Homo sapiens: one gene and its partner. The protein of the gene in region 1 purifies or fractionates together with the protein of each later gene. This does not show direct contact. Each region holds a gene or a part of one and is shown in the gene's direction. Other genes may lie near its edges. The genes, in order: MTRFR and XDH.

Evidence for each region.
Region 2: the proteins of MTRFR (region 1) and XDH purify together in Homo sapiens (affinity purification with mass spectrometry; one large-scale study listed by BioGRID and IntAct). This does not show direct contact.

Annotation. Positions count from the first base shown.
Region 1 is NC_000012.12:123,250,412-123,254,221, forward strand, and holds part of MTRFR (mitochondrial translation release factor in rescue), read left to right. Parts: intron 1-3,235; 5' UTR 3,236-3,263; coding exon 3,264-3,545; intron 3,546-3,810. UniProt on the Homo sapiens protein: Part of a mitoribosome-associated quality control pathway that prevents aberrant translation by responding to interruptions during elongation.
Region 2 is NC_000002.12:31,411,904-31,416,457, reverse strand, and holds the start of XDH (xanthine dehydrogenase/oxidase), read left to right. Parts: upstream 1-1,715; 5' UTR 1,716-1,791; coding exon 1,792-1,833; intron 1,834-4,554. UniProt on the Homo sapiens protein: Key enzyme in purine degradation. Catalyzes the oxidation of hypoxanthine to xanthine. Catalyzes the oxidation of xanthine to uric acid. Contributes to the generation of reactive oxygen species. Has also low oxidase activity towards aldehydes (in vitro).

The DNA of each region.
Region 1 (3,810 bases):
GAACTAGTATGTTTTTTGGGGGGTGTTGAAGCGTCTTGTTTTGTCATATTACCAGGGTTTGTTCATTTGGGTAGGCTCTGTCAGAGGGAAGGTCTAGGGCTGAAGGCTGTTCAGATTCTTTTGTCCCATGGGGTGTTCTCTTCATGTAGTACTCTGCCCCTTTTCCTATGGATGTGGCTTCCTATGAGCCAAACTTGCAGTGATTGTTGTCTCTCTTCTGGGTCTAGCCACCCAGCGAATCTTCCCAGTTCCAGGCTGGTACTGGAGGTTATCTGCAGAGTCCTGTGATGTGAACCATCTATGGGTCTCTCAGCCATGGCTACCAGTGCCTGTTCGGTGGAGGTGGCAGAGGGTACAATGGAGCTTTGGTGGGTTAATGGTCTATTTTTTTTGCTGGTTGGCCTCCTGCCAGGAGGTGGTCCTTTCCAGAAAGCATCAGCTGTGGTAATATGGGGAGGAACCAGCAGTGGGCGGGGCCCTAGAACTCCCAAGATTTATTTGCCCTTTGTCTTCCTGCCAGGGTGCATAGGGAAGGACCATCAGGTGGGGGTGGAGCTAGGCGTGTCTGAGCTCAGACTCTCCTTGGGCGGGTCTTGCTGCGGCTGCTGTAGGGAATGTGGGTGAGATTCCCAGGTCACTGGAGTCGTGTACCTAGGAGAGTTATGGCTGCCTCTGCTGAGTCATGCAGGTTGTCAGGGAAGTGGGGGAAAGCTGGCAGTCACAGGCCTCACCCAGCTCCCACACAAACCCAAGGGCCGGTCTTACTCCCACCGTGTTCCCCCACAACTGCCCCGAGTCTGTTTCCAGGCAGAGGGTGAGACTGGCTTGAAAATTTGCCCCAAGGCTGTGCCCCTCCCAGCAGCGAAAGAAAAGGGCTGTAGTTCTTCCCCCACCTGTGAAGTCTGCATGCTGGATTCGTGCAGTTGCCCAAGTTCTGGCCAGGAGGCTTCTCACCCTGTTTAAATTGTTACGAAGTTCGACTAGAGAATTCTTCTCCCTGTGGAGTTTTATCCCTTGCTCCTCTGGCCACCCTCCCGATGGATCCCTGTGGTGCCAGGCAGGAATGGGCCTTCTGGGGACCCAGCGAGCTCCCACGGCCTTTCTGCTGCTTCCTCTACCCCTGTAGTTCGCTCTGCTGAGTCTGACTTAGCTCCAGGTAAAGTTGGAAATTTCTCCTGCAAACAGACCTTCAGCCTCTCCAGTGGGGGGGTGTGTGTTCGGGAGAGGAGGATCTCCCTTTCCCACTTCCACAGTTGGGGCACTCACAGTATTTGGGGGTCTCCCGGGCCCTGCAGGAGCAATCCGCTTCCTTCAGAGGGTCTGTGGGTCCTCTCAGGATTGCTGGTTTGTTCTTGCAGTTGATCTAGAGCTAAAATTCACAATGCAAGCCTCTGCATGCTGCTCTGTCTGAAGCTACAATCTAGTCCTGCCTCCTGTCTGCTATGATCCCAGGAGCTCCCATGCAAATAAATTATGATCACAAGGTCCCAAAATAGGCTGTCTAGAGCTGAGGAGCAAGGAGAGCCAGTCTGAGTCCCAAAACTGAAGAACGTGGAGTCTGATGTTCAAGGGCAGGGAGCATCCAGCACTGGAGAAAGATGTAGGCAGAGAGTCTAGGCCCATCTCATCTGTCTTTTAATATCTTCTCTAACTAACCTGTAAGCTCCAAGAAGACAGTCCAGCTCTTTTTCATCTCATGTCCCTTACTGTACCTAACAAGGACCTTATTAAAAGTTGACTGGCTGGATGCAGTGGCTCACGCCTGTAATCCCAGAACTTTGGGAGGCTGAAGCAGGTGGATTACTTGACCTTAGGGAGTTCAAGACCAGCCTGGGCAATATGGCGAAACCCCATCTCTACAAAAAGTAATTACTCAGATGTGGTGGTGTCTGCCTGTAGTCTTCACCTACTAGGGAGCCTGAGGTGACAGAATCGCCTGACCCTGGGGAAGTCAAGGCTGCAGTGAGCTGTGATCGCGCCACTGCAGTCCAGCCTGGGCGACAGAGTGGGACTCTGTCTCAAAAAAAAAAAAAAAATTAGTTGACTTGGTAGTTCCAACGATGAGTACCAGTTGGACCACGTTGTTGGCAGTGCGTCCAGGGAACAGATGTTCACATTCAAATCCATGAAACTGGAAACAAAAAACAACAATCATGACATTGATTGATAGTGATGTTTACTATGTCAGACTGTTTAAGCTCAGCTATAAAATAGACTACTCAGCCCTGGGTGGGGGTGGGGGGTGGCTCACACTTGTAATCCCAGCACTTTGGGAGGCCGAGGTGGGCAGATCACCTGAGGTCAGGAATTCGAGACCAGCCTGGCCAACATGGTGAATCCCCGCCTCTACTAAAAATACAAAAATTAGCCGGGTGTGGTGGCACACGCCTGTAATCCCAGCTACTCAGGAGGCTGAGGCAGGAGAATCACTTGAACCTGGGAGGCGGAGGTTGCAGTGAGCCAAGATCGCGCCATCGCACTCCAGCCTGGGCGACAGAGCGAGATTCCGTCTCAAAAAATAAAATAGACTCTCATACTGTCATCTTTACATTTTGATTTCAGAGATTCTCAAACATTTAAATACTGGCACTTGACCCAGATCCTAATTTTTGCTTGATGCACTATTTACCTGTATCAAATTACAGTCCGTTCCTTTGAATTTTTTTTTTTTTTTTTTTTTTTTTTTTTTTTTTTTTGAGACACTGTCTCGCTCTGTTGTCCAGGCTGGAGTGCAGTGGCTCTGCCTCAGCCTCCCGAGTAGCTGGGATTACAGGCACCCACCACCAAGCCCGGCTAATTTTTGTATTTTTAGTAGAGATAGTTTCATCATCTTGGCCAGGCTGGTCTTGAACTCCTGACCTTGTGATCCACCTGCCTCGGCCTCCCAAAGTGCTTGGATTACAGGTGTGAGCCACCATGCCCGGCCTGAATTTCACACTCAAAACCTCTCCTTTCTGAGAAAACAGCACCCCCGGGTGCTTGGAAGATATTTTTGGTCTATTGCAAGAAAATATGTATTAGCTGGCAGGGCATGTCCTGGTAACATGGCAGACAGTGCAAGGCTGAGGAGAGGGGCGTCTTGCTGAATAATGTGTCTCTACTCATTTCCTAAATTCCCTCGGTAACAGATGGGTCATCATTTGAATTGCTTTATAAAAAGCTGTCTTTGAATCTGAAGCATAATCTTGAGGGCAGATGCCTCTTACTGAAAGCTCTCCTTATTCATCTAACCCAGGTCCTCAGCCAGCAGAGCCACGTTCCTTATGAGCACCGTGGGTTTATTTCATTTTCCTACACCACTGACCCGAATATGCCCGGCGCCATGGGGACTCCGGCTTTGGGAGAAGCTGACGTTGTTATCCCCAGGAATAGCTGTCACTCCGGTCCAGATGGCAGGCAAGAAGGACTACCCTGCACTGCTTTCCTTGGATGAGAATGAACTCGAAGAGCAGTTTGTGAAAGGACACGGTCCAGGGGGCCAGGCAACCAACAAAACCAGCAACTGCGTGGTGCTGAAGCACATCCCCTCAGGCATCGTTGTAAAGGTAGATCACAGAAGGCCGCTGAGGGGAGAGGCCCCGCCCAAGGGTTCCACAGCCTCCAGAGATTTCTCCCAAGTGTGAATGGGATCAGCCGAAGTGCATTATTTTTCTGGCTTGGGCCACCCTCTACCAGCCAGGCAGTAGAGAGCACCGCAGATCTCGTCCCATCCCTGAGCCATTCCTCCCTAAGGCAGAACCTCCTACAACAGCCTGGGAAGCCTGTTTCCAGGATCTTTTGGAGCCAGGGTATGGCTGCCATCCTTGAATT
Region 2 (4,554 bases), on another chromosome or scaffold:
TTCGGTTTTGTTTTTGAGATGGAGTCTCACTCTGTCGCCCAGGCTGGAGTGCAGTGGCATGATTTCAGCTCACTGCAACCTCCGCCTCCTAGGTTCAAGTGATTCTCCTGCCTCAGTCTCCAGAGTAGCTGGGATTACAGGTGGCCCACTGCTCCCAGATAATTTCTGTATTTTTAGTAGAGATGAGGTTTTACCATGTTGGCCAGGCTGGTCATGAATTCCTGACCTCAGGTGATCCACCCACCTTGGCCTCCGAAAGTGCTGGGATTATAGGTGTGAGCCTCCATGCCCAGCCAACAACCAGTTTTATAGTGACCAACCATCCCAGTTTGCCCTGGACTGAAGGATTTACTAGGATCTCTGAGGCATTTGTCAGGGATTCAAGGCTAAAACTAGGATAGTCCAGGGCAAACTGGGATATTTGGTCAACCAACAAGTAAAGTTTCATCTCCTGGTTAAATTAAGGCTGTGGTGAGAGGGGGCATTGTGTTGATTGTGTGGTTGTCCTGTCAGTCTTCAGTTTCTCTAAGCTGTTGCTATATCAAGTACATCTGCCTAATACTCCTTTCTTCCCCCTCAGGTAGCCTGCTAGGGTTGTAGGGGAGGTGTCTTACTTAAGGAAGGCTGGCTGAGCCACTGTATGGGTCATTACAGGACAGAAGAAGACCAGAGTGAATGCTGGTCTCTGTGTGTTTTTTTTTTTTTTTTTTTTTTTTTTTTTGCGTGTGTGTGTGTGTTGAACTAAAGAACTGGTAGGGGCAGTTGGGAGGGTGCTGGACTGCAGAGAGCCCTTTAGTGCTGCTCCAGTGGACGTGCACATCTGTGTTTCCACTGAGAGTTAATGGATATTGGATGGGGAAAGGTTTTCAGCTATGTGTTACTGTAGCCTATGACTATGTGGTATGAGCATTTTAATTTATTTGGTGTTTTGAAATACTTTTATGAGTTACTCTGACAACTTGTCAAGGATATTTTCCTGAGAGAAACAAATAAAAGACAAATCTCAAAAATAGTTTGCTATTAGGATTTTATTTGTTGAGATGTTGAAGATGTCTTTTCAACAGTGATACATGTTTTGGTTCTTTGCAAATTTACAAGGCACTCCCAAAATGTCATTTGTCCCTCATTCTTCTATTCTTGATATCATTCTATGATCCTGTACAGGATGAAAGCAACTGAGTTCTGAAGGTAGTAAGTAACATGCTGAGGTCAAATGCCAGGATTTGAGTCAGGTTCATGGGGCTCCATGTCCTGTGACCTCTCTGCTCCACCAGGCTGTGAAAGAATGACTCTTGCATTCATGCAGTCAGTCTGTGTTGCTGTAAACCTGAATGGTAAAATGACAAATGTAGACACAGAGGGTGTGAATCAGCTCTATTAGCAGTGACTCTGAGAATAGTCCTTTCCCTCCTCTGTCTTCCCCTTCTCTGTCTTGCAGCAAGTGGGAGGACGAAGCAGGTTTCATAAGAGCAGCGCCCAAGACCCACAGTCGCCTAGTGCCAAGTCAACAACCTTACTGATATCTGGATGTAGTTTCCTGTGCTCTTTGACACAGGTGTGGAGATTGTAATTTGCTGTGTGTGATTGTTTGCACTTCCTTGATTATGTAAACCAGTGGCTTTTGCCAAGAACTCTTCATGCCCTGAAGCTCTGAGCTGGTTCCCTCCCATTGGTGGACCTTATTTCATTTTATTGGGAGGCGTAACTTTCAGGTCACAGAGCAGTGATAACTACCTGCCAGTGTCTCTTAGGAGTGAGGTACCTGGAGTTCGGGGACCCCAACCTGTGACAATGACAGCAGACAAATTGGTTTTCTTTGTGAATGGCAGAAAGGTAAGTAGGAGCTGACCTTTGGTTTTGTGTCCCTTCTCCCTGGGAGGGGAAATGTGTCCTCTGGCAGAGCCATATCTTGTTCTCTGTCTTTCCTGTCCCCTCTTACTTGTTCTGTCTTTCTCTCTCTCGCTTTAAAGGTGTCGCTGCATTTTGGTAACATTAGGGAAGAAGACCTTCTCGGGGCTAGAGCACAGACAAGATACTCAGAGGCCAAAGAATGAGGGAGAGAGAGGCAAGCAGAGAGGCATCTGTGAGCTAGCTGCCAACTCTCTGCAGTAGTGGAGATTGGCACAGAATGAGAAAGGGGAGTTGAGTTCTAGGTGAGATTTGAGGTCATCACCACACTTCTATTTCTGTCTTTAATCAAATATATCCTAAAATTTACGTTGCTCTCTTTACAGAGAGAAGGAACAGGAATGTGTTTTCCTGCTTTTATCAGGATATAAGATGTACGCAGCCTTTGATTCTAATATATTATATATATAGGTTTAACAGCCAGTCCTGATTCACTGTGAGGTGACATATACTGACACCTTGTGGCAAACCACAATTTTTTTTTCATAAAGGGCATCTCCTGCATTCCCCCCACTCCCCACCCACACACAGTGAGTTCTACATGTAAGCTGCAAATCTGTTACCTACTTGAATTTACCTTATTGGTACACAGGGACTTAGGGAAGGTGACATGGGTACCAGCCCTTGGACAAGAGTGAGAATCTTTGCAAATTTTAATGTGGTGCAGAGAGAGAGGGGGCAAGCATATTACATGGTCACTAGCCTCCATTTGCCCTCCTACAACACTGCTGAGATGCTCATACCTGTTCAACTTCCCACTTAGGAATGAAAAGGATAGTAAAAGAGTCCCATAGTTGCACATTGTAACTTACTGTGTGGACTGTGCGTGATGAATGTGCCCAAAGTGTCCCCCAAAGAAGGGCAATTTTATTTGTCTTTCTATATTGGCATTTTTGCATTGAGTTGAGAAACTTTTGATGTAATTTTGAGTGACTTTTGGTATAATTTTCAAGAACAATAATGTGCTTCACTGGACTCCTAGGTCTTAAATTTCCAGGATGTGTTTGGGTGACTGTAAAAGAAATTTCATGAACTGTTTCAACGTCAGTGCTCCAAAGATTGATGGACTCTCTTTGAGTGGTGCCTTTGGGAAGTGCTGGGGAATGGGGACAGCCATGTTCTTCTGGGTTCAGAGTTTCCTCTCTGAGCTGCATCCTTTTCAGGGTTGGCACCTGGTACCAACCCAAGAAGTAGGGCAAAGCTTTCAAGTGTAAGATTTTGCATCCAGCATTTCAAACAACTTCTTTCCTTCAGCAATTACATTGTAGAAATCTAGGAAACCATTGTGCAATTGGCTTTCTAGGAGAGCTACTTACACAAAGCCATCTCTGGAATTTTTATTAGTAATTTTTACATTGGGTAAACAGCTAGATTCAATGACGTCCAAGGTCATGTCTTACTCTGAGGTTTTATTATTTATTAAACCAAACCATTGGTTAACCTGTAAAAGTATAAGTTTCTGCTCTTCTTCAGGGATGGCTTGCTGTTATGCACTAAATCTAGAAAGAAGAATTTCAAGGTAAATCTGGCTTGGGGAAAATTATTTTCCCTTGCATTTTACTTTCACTTTAGGAGAGTAATTTTAAATTTTTCGATGGTACCATCACATCAAATCCTATTATTTCTAGAAGCTTCTACTACTGCCAGTTTCTGTGATGAATATCCATGTTTGTAATTTATAATGATGTAGCATCTTCAGAAACTGCAAGAAAGGTAGAGGGGCAATGCAGAAAGTAATTATGTGAAAGCAATGCTGTAAAAACAAGACCAAGCAAGGGAATTCCTGGGTAAACAATGGCAGCTGTGAGAAAGTTGTCCTCATTTTTATTCAGAAGATATTCTAGACCTTTTGTTACAGGAATTGTGCAAAGTAGTTACCAAAGAAGCTGTAAGAACTTAGTGACTCTTTTTTTTTATTATTATACTTTAAGTTCTAGGGTACATGTGGACAACGTGCAGGCTTGTTACATATGTACACATGTGCCATGTTGGTTTGCTGCACCCATTAACTCGTCATTTACATTAGGTATATCTCCTAATGCTATCCCTCCCCTCTCCCCCCACCCCACGACAGGCCCCGGTGTGTGATGTTCCCCTTCCTGTGTCCAAGTGTTCTCATTGTTCAATTCCTACCTATGAGTGAGAACATGCAGTGTTTGGTTTTTAAATGTGAGCCTACTCCTCTCCTTGTTTTGTACCACTGTCCAGGACTCTGGCTTCACTAAATGGGGTCCTGCAGAAGGTGTTCGATGCAAGAAGTCGAATACCTCTAGGGCCTTCTGTGGTGGTGATGAGCCTTGATGACTATTGTTTTCATTCACATCTTCTTTTGTTCTAGAGTCAGAGTCAAAGGGAAAGAGCTGTCCAGTATTTTATTTTTATTGTAATGACAGCCTTTTTGCAAGGCAGCATTCTAGCTTTTCTGAGTAGTCACTCTGTCTAGCTGAGACTGTGGCACCTGGAAGAATCTGGGAGGATCTGGCAGGTTGGGTGCAGCCAAAGGTGTCCAGGAGTGATCCCCACAAGAAGTGAGTGTCAGCTACAGAGATCGTCACGGTGACTTTCACTCACTCACTCACTCACTCACTCACTTACTCATCATTCACTTGCTCACTCCCCATATAGTCAACATTTATCAAGCTCCTT